2 linked regions of the Homo sapiens genome follow. The protein of the gene in region 2 purifies or fractionates together with the protein of the main gene of each other region. This does not show direct contact. Each region holds a gene or a part of one and is shown on either strand. Other genes may lie near its edges.

The links. The genes of interacting proteins can lie anywhere in the genome.
Region 1: the proteins of RNF111 (region 2) and SMAD3 purify together in Homo sapiens (affinity purification with western blotting; 5 studies listed by BioGRID). This does not show direct contact.

The regions. Positions count from the first base shown.
Region 1 is NC_000015.10:67,180,602-67,187,601, reverse strand, and holds part of SMAD3 (mothers against decapentaplegic homolog 3), read right to left. Parts: intron 6,362-7,000; coding exon 6,149-6,361; intron 2,876-6,148; coding exon 2,738-2,875; intron 583-2,737; coding exon of another isoform or gene 472-582; intron 238-471; coding exon 93-237; intron 1-92. UniProt on the Homo sapiens protein: Receptor-regulated SMAD (R-SMAD) that is an intracellular signal transducer and transcriptional modulator activated by TGF-beta (transforming growth factor) and activin type 1 receptor kinases.
Region 2 is NC_000015.10:59,074,609-59,081,706, reverse strand, and holds part of RNF111 (E3 ubiquitin-protein ligase Arkadia), read right to left. Parts: intron 5,754-7,098; coding exon 5,492-5,753; intron 772-5,491; coding exon 423-771; intron 1-422. UniProt on the Homo sapiens protein: E3 ubiquitin-protein ligase. Required for mesoderm patterning during embryonic development. Acts as an enhancer of the transcriptional responses of the SMAD2/SMAD3 effectors, which are activated downstream of BMP.

The sequences.
Region 1 (7,000 bases), 8.1 Mb from region 2:
GGCCTAGCTCATCTCTGAGGAGCCCTGCCTGCTCTGCTGTCCAGAGTCACCTGGAGTTGGGTCCCCTGATGTAGGCAGCACCCATAACTGACCTGTACTCCGCTCCCCAGCCTTTGACGAAGCTCATGCGGATGGTGCACATTCGGGTCAACTGGTAGACAGCCTCAAAGCCCTGGTTGACCGACTGGGCCAGGAGGGCAGCGAACTCCTGGTTGTTGAAGATCTTCAGGTTGCATCCTGCCAAAAACACAGAAACAGGGCTGTGGGGATGGAAGTGGCCAGGTCCGTTGCTCCCCTCCTGGATAAAGCAAGTCCTGGACCCCCTAGACCAGCCTCATTTATACAGCTCCAGGGACACATGGTGTGTGATGCATTTGCCACACACTCCACACTCAGTACCATGCAAAGGGAAGGCCAACCCAGTCCCTCCCCTTGAACCCATCTCCTCACTGGGAGGTGCCACTGACATACCTGCAAGGGGAGATGGAAGGCTGGCCCACAAGCTCCGACTCCCAGAGCAGGGAGAAGTCTGCAAAGAGGGCTTCCAAAAATAGGGAGATGGTGTGGAGAGGGGGGCCTTTCCTTGGGCAAAGGGACCAGGGGACAGAGAGATAAGGGACCTGGGCCAGGTTGCCCATGCTGTGTGGGGTCTGGTCACCCACCTAGGAACAGGAGCTCTGGCCGTTCCACAGCAGGCAGTGCCCCCAGAGACGGGCTGGCCGAAAGGCTACTGGGCCTGCCGTCCCCACAGGAAGCTTGGCAGAGGGCCCAGTGCACCCTCCACCTGGGCTCCTCTGATGAATACACCTGGTGCTGGGGCTAGGAGGTAAGGAGAGATCTGGGCCAAATTTTGGCCTCTGGGCACTGGGCTGGGTGGAGGTGACATTCACAGCTAAGTGAAGGTGTGCATCTGATTCTCCAGACAGTAAAACTAAAGACAGTCACAAATAAAGTTTAAAATAAATGTCGTTTGAAGTCTTACTGCCTGAGTGCCAGGAATGTGTCAACCAGAAAAATAAAGACAAAAGCACATGCTGGAAATAGCCAAAAGGTGAGCCGGGGTGACGCTTATGAATGAGCCAACAGCAGGCTCCTGTTCTTGCTGTGTGACTCTGAGCTGGTCGCTTTCTCTTGGGGACCCTGTGTCTCTGTATAATGAAGGGCTGGCCTCAGAGGTCCTTCCAGCTCTGACATTCTATGAGCTGACAAACAACACCACAGCCAACTCAGCCCTCACCCAAAAGATGGGGGTGGGGCCGGGGAATGGAAGAGGCAGAAGGCCAAGAGCGTCACTGAGCTTCCTCTTCTTCATTCTCTCCAAGGACAAGGGTGGTGGAACAGGGCTGAACCTGGGCCCTGACCCCCAGCAGAGCCAAGAAGCAGAAGAGCACCAAACTTGAGAGTCCATCAGCCCTAGGCCCCATCCCGGCTTGGCCACTTACTAGCTGTGTGCGCTTGGGCAGGTGGCTGAAACTCTCTGAACTTGTCTCTCAAAGCGTCTCCTTACTTATAGAGCCAGAGAATAACTGGTGAGGACTAAATGAGGTCAACGATCGGAATGTACTCTATAAATGCAACCACAAAATGCTCTGGAAACCTGGTGTGCTATTATCATTTCAGACTTTCTGCATTCTAAAGTTTCCCCTGCCTGTGGTCTACCACTTCTCCACTACCATCTGCTACTCAGTGGGCAGGAAGGGGCATGCCACACACGTGCCACAGGCAATGGCCTGGCCAGGTTACCTGCTCCACTAGTCTGTCACAGGCCATGTTCTGTGGGCTGCCTACACAGTGGCTGCACGTCCTGTGAAAAGTGGACTTTGGCTGGGGCTTTCTGCCTTGGTTTCCTGAGGAAAGAGGCCTTAGATGGGATCAGCCACCTGCCTGATCTTGCTGTCCAGGCGTGGCCCTGTCCAAACCACTCTCGGGGGTGCAGCCTGACACCTCTTCTTGGGGTACAGGTGGGATTTTTCAGGCTCACTCAGAAAACCCTCAGCAGTTCCCTAGAGTCAAACTCTCTGGTGTCCTTCCACGGCCTCATGCTGTTGTGCTTTTGAAACATTTCCCCTGACGGTCTCATACATGACCCTCCTCCAGCCAGAGAGCTACCCATCCATGTCCTGCCCTCCATTACCTCAGGCCCTTTGCCTGGGCTGCTCCCCCTGTCTAGAATGCCCTCCCTGTGCCTAGTGCCTACCTATCCTTCAGGATCCGGATGTTTCTCCTCCATGAAGACTTCCCTGATCCATCCCAACAGCTAAATGGGCCTTCTCTCTACCTGGGCTGCTGGCTTGGTGCTTGGCACCCGTCCCTTATATTGAACTCATCCGTGTCTTTGTCTTCTGTGCTCTGCAGGCCTGTAAGGTCTGCGGGGGCAGAGCAGGGCCGCATCTACCTCTTCATCCCCTACAGCACCTGGCACAGAGCCCTGCATGCTGTTTGTGCAATGAATGAGTGAAGAAAGGAAGCCATACTGCCTGAGCATCTACGCACAGGGCAACAGGCAGGTACCCACAGGTTAAAGGCAGACCTATCAGATGCTACATCTGCTCCCTGGAAGTTCAGGGAAAGCACAGTTAGATCTGTGGGCATAGAGAAAACCTAATCCAATCACCTCCAGATTGACAACGCAATCATGAGTGAGCAGAAAAGGTGAGAAAGGTGGACTCTCTCCAGCATCCTAGGCATGCACTCGGAGAGGGACCTCAAGGCAGGGGTGCCTGTGCGGCTCGTTTACCTGGTGGGATCTTGCAGACGGTGGCCGGGTGCCAGCCATAGCGCTGGTTACAGTTGGGAGACTGGACAAAAATAGCGCTGTCACTGAGGCACTCTGCGAAGACCTCCCCTCCGATGTAGTAGAGCCGCACGCCTCTTCCTACAGAGATTCAGGTTAGACTGGACAGGGTGCCTTTGCTCACACACAATGGCCCTGGGGCCACCTGAGGCTCGCAAAGGAGGCAGAACAGCAGAGCTGCTCCCAGTGACTGCCAGCTTCCCCAGGCAAACGGGCCCCAAAGCCCAAGCCTAAAGTAGGGGAAATGGGCACTGCCGGATTCCTAAAGCCAAGGGAGGCAGATGACAAGAGATGGGCACACAGGATAGGTCTCAGTGACAGCCTTTGCCACTGAGTAGGCATGGGCCTCAGTCAAGTTATTCACCCTCTGAGTCTTCGTTTGTCTCTACGATAGGGATGGGGGCCAGGCGCGGTGGCTCACACCAATAATCCCAGAGCTTTAGGAGGGCAAGGTGGGAGGATCACTTGAGGCCAGGAGTTCAAGGCCAGCCTGGGCAATGTAATGAGACTTCATCTCTACAAAAACATTTTTTTTTTAATTAACTGGGCATAGTGGCATATCCTTGTAGTCCTAGCTGCTTGGGAGGCTGAGGTGAGTGGATTGCTTGAGCCCAGGGGTTCAAGACTGCCGTGAGCTCCCATCACACCACTGCACTCCAGCCTGGGAGACAGAGTGAGACCCTAACTCCAAAAAAAAAAAAAAAAAGGGAATGATGATAACCTCTACCCTTGCAGGATTACTGTGAGACACACAGTAAGTGCCTGGTGTCAGCTTTTCTTGCTGCTACTGCTACTACTACCCCACTATTATTTGGTCTCTTCACACTCCAAGATTCAGAGATTCATTCAGTAAACCTGCAGGGCTCCTTCTGATGCAGCAGACACCCCAAGGAGCCCTTTATTGCAGGGATGGTTTAACGCTATGCCCTTATTTTTTTCTTCCCTCAATGCATTTTTCTAAAACATTCCAGAGGTTTATATCATTTACTTTTCTTTCATCTCTTAAATCCACTCCAGATGGACAGAAATTATTTTTAAATTGGCTCTGCAACTCAAACAGTTGCGTAAACTCTGACAATGAGCTCTTTGCTCGGCCAGGGGATGGTCCCTTCTCCTGCATGGCAAAGTCTCTGCTCCATTCCTGGGGAAGAAGCTCAGAGGTCAGAACACGGAGCCAGATATTACAGGCCCAGCATCCGGTAGGATGAACACGAGGTGACCGACCCATGCATCACTGGATGTCCCCTGTCCTGCCTCCTATTCCCACTACTGTCCCCTTCCTCCAACCACTCCCCATTTTTTCTGGCTTTAGTTCTGCAGGGTGCTGGTGGCTCAGAGTCCACAGGAGGGATGACTTCCTGGCTGTCCACAACTGTATCATGTCAGTAAGAGCAGAAGGCAGAGGTGGGGATGCGAAGACCCAGACCAAAAATGTTTGTTTCGTTTCAGTAACTTAAAAAAATAGGCCGGGCATGGTGGCTCACACCTGTAATCCCAGTACCTTGGGAGGCTGAGGCGGGCAGATCACCTGAGGTCAGGAGTTCGAGACTAGCCTGGCCAACGTGGTGAATCCCCATATCTACTAAAAATACAAAAAATTAGCCAGGTGTGGTGGCACATGCCTGTAATCCCAGCTACTCAGGAGGCTGAAGCAGGAGAATCACTTGAACCTGGGAGGTGGAGGTTGCAGTGAGCCAAGATTGTGCCATCGCACTCCAGCCTGGGAGACAAGAGCGAGACTTGGTCTCCCCGCTCCAAAAAAAAAAAAAAAAAAAATATATATATATATATATATATATATATATATTTTTTTTTTTTTTTAATAAAATATAGAAAAAAGCCAGTTGCAGTGGTATATGCCTATTGTCCCAGCTAATCAGGAGGCTGAGATGGGAGGATAGCTTGAGCCCAAGAGTTTGCGACTGGGCCTGGGCAACATAGCAAGACCCTATCTCTAAATCAATCAATCAATCAAACAGTGGTATGCCACCCAGAATAAGTATCTTTTTTGAAGTAAAAAACAAAAAGCGAAATGGGAACAACAGGTCTGGTAGTGGTGGCTGTCTGTCACTGACAATGAGGTCTCTGCAGAGCCGTTCCCTACCCTCCCCAACCCCCTAGACATCAGGTCCCTTTCCTAGAAAATGAGAGCACAGACCTAGGCCCATGGCCTCCAAACTTTTCTTCTCTTCACTACAGAATCAATCCTCTCTTCAAATGAAGTCTTCTGTGAGAGCCCGAGATATAAAGCAAGCGAGTGCAGAGGTGCCCTGGTTCACGTGGGACCAGGCTTCCCTTTGCTAACCTGCCCACCTCCTGAGTTTGCCGCAGGAACCCTTTGCCAACCCTTGGGGCTCCAGGACAAGGTCTGAGAAAACCTCACTCTGCCATCTCTCTACAGCCCTTCTAAGTTCTGACAGTTGTGATTCTGGATCGTAAAATCCTCTAAGCTTGATAACTTCATAAGCAAACCAAGTGATGCGTAACACAGCTTCATCTTCCTTAAACTCACAAAGTCATCTTTTACTTATGTTCTGGGGGCTAGAAGGCAGAAGGTTCACAGTAGTGGTGTTTGGATAGTGGACAATTCTTTTCTACCTTTTCTAAATTGTTTAGAATAATGATACATGAAAATAAGAGAAGATCACTCTTCCAACAATGACTGCCTACTTATCAACCTATCCATCTGTACTTTCAGAGTATTTTTATTTAGAGGATTTCAGCCAGGCACGGTGGCTCACGCCTGTAATCCCAGCACTTTGGGAGGCCAAGGCAGGTGGATCACCTGAGGTCAGGAGTTCGAGACCAGCCTGGCCAACATGGAGAAACCCCGTCTCTACTAAAAACACAAAAATTAGCTGGGCGTGGTGGTTGGGTGCCTGTAATCCCAGCTACTTGGGAAGCTGAGGCAGGAGAATCGCTTGAACCCAGGAGGCAGAGGTTGCAGTGAGGCAAGATTGTGCCATTGCACTCCAGCCTGGATAAAGCAAGACTCTGTCTCCAAAAAAAAAAAAAAAATAGATTTCATATGTTGCCTTTCTCATAGACGTTCCCTTCTTGATCCCTTAGATGAACTATTTTCCTCTGTGGCTTCCAGATTTTCTGAGATTATATCTTTGAGTGGGAATGATCAAGTGGCCTGAACACTACCTGTCTGGCCCCTAAACAGGGCAACAGAGAGTGTAGGGGACTTGCTGGGGCAGTGAGTCTTCCCCCATGCCCAGCAGGAGGCAGAGCACAGCTAAGGATGGACGCAAGGTTCCCTTCAGAGGCTGTGTGTTCAGGCCTGGGGCTGGGGGTGGGATAGAGTGGCAGGGGCAGGGTGGGGGGGCGGGGAATGGAGCCACCCCATACCGATGTGTCTCCGTGTCAGCTCCACTGCTGCATTCCTGTTGACATTGGAGAGCAGCCCTAGGCAGAAGCGCTCCGAATTGGAGGGGTCGGTGAAGCCATCCACAGTCATGGATGGCTGCGAGGCGTGGAATGTCTCCCCGACGCGCTGGTTCAGCTCGTAGTAGGAGATGGAGCACCAGAAGGCCGGCTCGCAGTAGGTAACTGGCTGCAGGTCTGTGGACACAGGGTGGGCTACTGGGTCATTGGGTGTCCCAAGCCCCATGCTCCCTCGATGGGGTCCCATGGACACTCTGGAAAACCATTTCCCCGCATTTCAGAGGGATTATAATCTCCCTACCCCATGCCTTTTATCGTATAAAACTGGCAAGAGCCACCAGAACAAGATGCTCAGGTGTCTGGAGGAGATTCCATCAGCCTTGTGTGTAAAGGGCCATTGATTTCTCTTTTTATTTATTTATTTATTTATTTATTTATTTATTTAGCTCATAAAGGCCCTGCCCCGCCTGCTTGGCCTTGACTGGATGGAAGGAGTCTTCAAGGAGGGGCTGGGCCAAACCTGAAGAGGACCAGGGGCCACCCAGTACCTGGATGAACCTGGGACAGCCACTGCGTGTACTCACTGTGGGGCAGGCCACACCTCCTGCACAGTCACCTCTCAGCCTCTGTTGCAAGGTCCCCAGAGTAACCCACATTAATCCCTGCCCCTAAAAGGGCTTTCAGATTTTGGCTCTGCACAGCCTTGGGGGCAAAAACTCCCAGCCTGTGGAGCAGCAGCTTCCAAGCCTGCAGCAGCCGAGTGGGTTCCCAACAGCGCCCCATGTTGGCGCAGTGGACACACCAGGCATCATCTGC
Region 2 (7,098 bases):
TTGCTCTACCACCTAAGCTAGAGTGCAGTGGCACAGTCATAGCTCAGCTTTGAACTCCTGGGCTCAAATTATCCTCCTGCCTTAGCCTCCTGAGCAACTGGGGATTACGGGAATGAGCCTCACCCAGCTTATAGTTACAAGTTACATTATTTCTAAAGACTTCATGGTTTTTTTTGTTGTTGTTGCTGTTCTTTGTTCTTTTTTTAAAAAAAGAAAACAACAACAACAAAAAACAGTATTTCACTGTGTTGCCCAGATGGACTCAAACTCCTGGGCTCAAGCAATCCTCCTGTCTCAGCCTCCCAAGGAGCTGTGACTACAAGTGCATGCCACCATGCCTAGTTGGATTTCAGAGTTGTAAAGACCAATGGAAGTAGAAGAAAAAGCAAACTTGACTTTCTTTTTAAAAACGTAAAACATACGTTGGATGCTGCATCATCCTCCTCCTTTGAACTTCCATCCTCTGCATCACTTCATGAGGATGCAGTCTCTGTGCTGGAGGTGCTGTGGCTGGAATATGGTGCGAAATTGGCTGGTGTGTAGGAGGAAGATGCTGAGGGATTGGTGCAGCTGTACTGGCTAAGTGAGTTGGTGGTGGGGGTGCCACAGGATGAGATGTTGCATGAGAAGATATTTGAGAATGGAAAGCATGTACAGGATGAGGAATAACATAATCCACTTGAGGCGGAGGCTGAGTCTGAGGAGGGGGGTTTCCATGAGAATGCGGGCAGGCAGAAGCTTGATGATGAAGTGGCCTTGTCAAAGAGGCATCTGCAAGAAAAATATTTTGAGTATGTTACATAGGCACCATGCAGTTGAACATATATTGCTATTATACATTCCTAGTGTACTTTTAAACATATTAGTATTTTATTTTTATGAATACTTTATCAAGTAAAGTATTCAAGCAACTGCTCAAGCAACTTGCTCCCTTCTTACAATAATCTTGGATATCTTATGTCAATATATATATTATAGTTTAACTTCACTCACAGCTTCACAACATTCTATTATATGAACACACCAAAATGTACTGACAAAATCCCCACTGATAAAAAAGAAACCCAAATGCTATGATAAATATCTGTGTATATGCTCACTCCTGCACTCACTCTTTCATTTACACACATGTATACACACATATATAGAGATCATTTCTGTAGCATAAATTCCTGTAAGTAGTTGTGGGACAGAAAGAAAAAAATAAATTTAGATGCCAGTTAATAAAAATACCCTTTCCAAAAGGTTGCCATAATTAATATTTCCATCAAGAGTACACAGGAAGGGCCAGGCACCGTGGCTCACACCTGTAATCCCAGCACTTTAGGAGGCCAAGGTGGGCAGAGTCACCTGAAGCCAGGAGTTCGAGACCAGCCTGGCCAACATGGCGAAGCCCCGTCTCCACTAAAAATACAAAAATTATCCAGGCATGGTGATGCACACCTGTAATCCCAGCTACTAGGGAGGCTGAGGCAGGAGAATCGCTTGAACCTGGGAGGTGGAGGATGCAGTGAGCTGAGATCATGCCACTGCACCCCAGCCTGGGCGACAGAGTGAGACTCCACCTCAAAAAAAAAAAAAAAAAAAAAAAAGGAGCACACAAGAAGGCCTGATTACCCCCACATTACCACTAAATTTTTAAAATAAATGCCAATCTGAGAAAAATCTTTTATTTCTTGACCGCTTGTATGTGTTCTCAGAATTATCTATTTACATGCTTAGCCTATTGTATTACTCACCTTTTTCTTATTGACTTGTAAGTATTATTTGCATATATGGAAGCTCTGTCATAATAGGGTGTAAACATTTTTCCAAACTGTCTCTCTCTCTCCCTACCCCATGTCATTATTCCTGTGCTACATTAAGGTGAAGGAGACCTATTTGTTTCCCATCAAATATGGACGTAAAGTCCTTAATAAGATGGCTCCTACCATTTCTTCATTCTACATCTTTATGTTTCAAAGTGACTGCTGAAAAATCTCTCTGAGGAATACACATCTTCCTTACTCTTAGAGATGTGCATCTACTTGACATGTAAAAAAAAAAAAAAAGTTTGTCTTAGATTTCAATACAAATTTCATTTTATTGGAAGATGTTCTTGGAAGTCTGATATAGACCAACAGCCATTCTCTAGTTTCATTACAGAAGTTTTCAATTTTTAATGCTTTTGATTCATTCAGCAAGGGCAGAAGTTAGGTAACAATAACTCAACTATATTTTCAAAGTATGCCTTGTTAGCATGTACTTAAAGGAAACTTTCAACAAATCTAATTTTTAAAAGTTGCAAGACAAATTTTTAAACCAATTTTCTAAAAGTTCTGTTTTCAAATCAATGCTTTACTCTTCAAGAAGGCACAAAGCTCAGTAGCTAGCTCTTAATCATAAAAAATGAATCCACTATGTTTTATGATTGTTAACTATCCTTTCTCAAATTCACAGCATTTTTTCTAGTTGCAAAGTTTTATATTTGTGTAATCATTATACAACATTCACAAATATTACAAAGCAAGAAGTTTTGTTTCAGAATGAGTCCATTTATTTAACTACTCTTTAGACATCACTTTAATTCACTGTTTAAACAAAACAGGTTGCTGACCATTTTAAGAGTGACATATTCCACATTCCCAAAAACCCTTTCCCTTCCTCTATTTGTGTTCCCAACAGTTAAAAAAAGTTCTTGATATTGTTTCCTAGACGTTCAACATATCACTTGCAGATGTAATACTATGCTTTATTCCAACATTTACTCACTGCATTCCCATAGCTTTACAGTGTAGACCATTTGCTTTATGATTAATCGTAAGTAGCCTTACCTATACCTCTCTTTTTTTTTTTTTTTTCTTCTTTTGAGAGGGAGACTCGCTCTATCGCCCAGGCTGGAGTGCAGTGGTGTGATCTCAGCTCACTGCAATCTCCATCTCCCAGGTTCAAGCAATTCTCCTGCCTCAGCCTCCCGAGTAGCTGCGATTACAGGCACCTGCCACCACACCCGGCTAGTTTTTGAATTTTTAGTAGAGACAGGGTTTCGCCATGTTGGCCAGGCTGGTCTTGAACTCCTGACCTCAGGTGATCCACCCGCCTCGGCCTCCCGAAAGTGCTGGGATTACAGGCGTGAGCCACTGTGCCTGGTCTTTTTTTTTTTTTTTTTTTTTTTAGAGACAGGTTCTCACTATGTTGTCCAGGCAGGAGTACAAGGATTGTTCACAGGTGTGATAACAGCACACTACAACCTTGAACTCCTGAGCTCAAGCAATCCCCATGCCTCAGCCTCCTGAAGAGCAGGAACTACATGCTCATACTACCAAGCCAGGCCTTACATATCTTCTCAATACATCTTATTAATAAGATAGTAAAACTTTTAAATAATAGCATTTCAAGTACAGTTGTTTTATCACTTCATCAAGACCACAAACCTTTCAAAAGCAGAGAGAGACATATTCTTACTCCACAAGTATTGTTGTTATACATATAAATGTACTTATGAAACAGCAAACTATTCATCTGGATCCAAGTATCACAATTTATAGCCAATAGGAATTATTCCCATTTTACAAGTGCAAAGAATGTAAGGACAGAGAGATTAAATAACTTATCCAAAGTCACCAAGCTAATTAGTCAGAGCTGGGAGGTCAACTCGAATCTATCCAATTCTAAAGCTAGTGCTCTACTATGCCATATTGTCTTCCCCAGTTCATTCTGGATGAAAAAAGGTTTAAGAACCACATGTTTCACACGTGAACTAAAGCATACGGGAAATGTTTTTTAAAAGCACGGGCAAGTTGGGGAGAGAATACACACACTCCTTCAGGAAAAGAAGCCCAAAACAGAGTTATCAAAATGTCTCTAACAGAAAATAATACAATTTAAATTTCCTACCTTCATTCTCATTAACACACTCCTAATGAGGTGTGTAAATTGATGCAGCCCCTTGGAGAGAAAACTTAACAGTATTTATCTGAAAGTTTAGCCCTCTGACATAGCAATCACATTTCTAGGAAGTTAAACTATACATAAACTCAACCATAAACAACTTTAATGTCCATCAACAGAAGACTGATTTAATATACAATGGATATTATGGGGGTATTAAAAACCAATGAGCTAGATTTTTATGTGCTAATATGCAAAAATCAAAATATACTGTTAAATTTAAAAACAAAAAACAAGAAGTAGAATATGTTTGATTTCCCATTTTTAAAAGGTAAGACATATACCTATCTATGTGTACAAAGAAAATTTCTAAAAGTTTTTATAGAACAGTTACTACCTCTGATATATTAAGATTAGTAAGCTGTGCGAGGAAGCTTTTAAATTCTCATTTTATATGACTGCACAGTCTGAATGTTTTAGAATATAACAAATGAATCTAAAACATGTATTTATTAGGACATTTTGAAAGGAATGAACTTACTCATAAACTGCTTCAGTATATTATTTTTAAAGGGGAGGGGCAGAAAATTAAGCATATTGAATTTCAAATAAAAGATGATCAATCAAAAATGAATACCATCAAGTATTACAAAATAGGCCATGCATCACACTGGTGCTCATACAAAGAATTGGCCCATTGGTCAATGCTTTGTAAAAACTTGCTAAATGTTTTCCAATTTATACTTTAAATTTTAAGTTGCATTACTGAGAAGGTAAATAATATATCACCAGTTTCACTGTACAGATTCTGGGTTGATTCCAGCTGCGTCTGCACGATGCAGATTTTTTTAAATGACTGGAGTAGAAGAAAAAATCCAAGAAGATATGTAAGTGAAAATTACCACTTGCCATGTAATCAAAACAAAACACAAATTTCCTTGCTGACTTCCTGGTTCATTTCCAGCATGAATTTTTGGTGTTTATCAGCCAAGTGTTTATTAAGCTTTCATTTCATTATTAGCTTATGATCTAACAAAATAGTAAATATGTTACATAGCCTTAGAGTATTTATCATTTCTTGTGATATCTAACGAATTTCAATTTCTTTAGAAAAGGCATGGCTGGTTCTATTTTATTTTTATAGAAACGGGGTCTCACTATGTTGCCTAGGCTGGTCTCAAACTCCTGGCCTCAAGCCATCCTCCTGCCTTGGCCTCCCAAAGTGCTGGGATTACAGGAGTGAGCCATCATGCCCAACCATGGTTATATTTTAATTGCCTGCATCAAATGAATATAAAAATCCTTTTACAACTCCCAAAGCTTGCTGTTATGTCTCAGCTAACTGCTTGAGAATTCTTAAAAATTTACTTTACTGTGCCTAGAAATACTACTCAACTTTCACATTTCTTCAGCTATACTAAAGAACAAATCTAAATTCCTTAAAACTTCCATTCAATCCACCTCAATTACATAATACTAACATGGGAAAAAATATACCCTACTCTTAAGCCAAGTAAATACTAAAAATTTAAGAACTGGGATTAAAGGTTATTTCATAAGGAAGTACAAAATGCTTCATTGACATGACTCTAGATTTTGTGTCCACTAAGTATATACTTACAAGGGGGTGGCATGTAATGTCGACATGATGAGAGAGAGGGCTGTGGAGGGGGCTGGGGCTGGGGCTGCGCAACCATGCTTGATCCATAGCCATCTATTGATGATAAAGGTTGACTTGGGGCAGCAGCAGCGGCCTGATGGCCAAAGATTGCAGCTCGGGAGGAAGAAACAGGGCAGCAGGGGTCAAATGCAGATGCTCCATGAAAACTGCCACTTCCATGACTTCTGATACCACTGTTGCTCAGGTCCACTGGCAATGCCTGCTAGATAAAAAGGAAGTATATTTTATCTTTCTAAAGTTTGGTCAAATATTTCATGTTATATTATAAAAGTATTCCTAATATAACCAAAAAAACATAATCTTTAAATTAGTTTGAAACCAGGAAGATTCTTAGTATGAAGAACCAGTGAGCACCAACAAAATACTTGGTTATCTTGAATATAACAAGTGTATCCTGGATTGTGAAAACTGTAGTGGTTTTACAGTTAAACCAATTTTTAAAAATCAAGCATAAGATTTTATCACAAGATGAACAAAAGTTTAATATATTAAAATCTTTTTGTCTTATAACAAATACATCTTAGAAACTTTAAAAATCATACTTCTATATTCTCCTTTATCCCAACATTGTGACTAGTACTTTAGGACTCCTTGAGAAAACATACTATCACACTACTGAAAATATTAAGGTTCTAGGAAAAATCTTGTCTGCCCCAAGTTCCAAACTGTATAAAGCAAGAATTCAATTAAAGTGCTAATAAACAAATCTACATTATTCAAAATAACAATGGACATAAGATTTTTCAGACTAAATCATGAATTACCTTTGCCACTCAAAGCTTTCACTTGTTCAAAAACATAAGAATAAAAAAAGTTAAAGCACTGCTTCCTTTTATAGGCATATTTATTGCATTTTATAGGCACATTTAGTGCTTTGCAGATGTTCGGGGTTTTTTGTTTTATTTTTAATAAATTGAAGGTTTGTGGCGACACTGTGTCAAGCAAGTCTATCAGAGTTATTTTTCCAACAGCATGTGGAAACTCTGTGTCTGTGTCACATTTTGGTAATTCTCTTAATATTTACATTTTTCTCATTATTATTTTATCTGTTATGGTGATATTTGATGAGTAGTCATTGATGTTACTATTATAATTGCTTTAGGCACCAAGAACTGTGCCCATATAAGACAACAAATTTAACAGATAAACATGTGTGTCCTGACCAGATGTTTCCCCATTACCCTGCTCTCCTCTCTTTGGGCCTCCCTATTCCCTGAGACACAACAACATTGAAATTAGGCCAATTAATGGCCTCTGGTATTGAAGTGAAAGGAAGATTTGCACATCTCTCATTTTAAACCAAAACCGAGAAATGATTAAGCTTAGTGAGGAAGGCATGTCAAAAGCCCAGAGAGGCCAAAAGCTAGGCCTCTTGCACCAGTTAGCCAAGTCATGAATGCAAAGGAAAAATCCTTGAAAGAAACTGAAAGCACTCCAGTGAACACACAAATGATAAGAAACTGAAACACCCTTATTGCTGATCTAAAGAAAGTTTTAGTGATCTAGATGGAAGATCAAACCAGCTACAATATTCTCTTAAGCCAAAG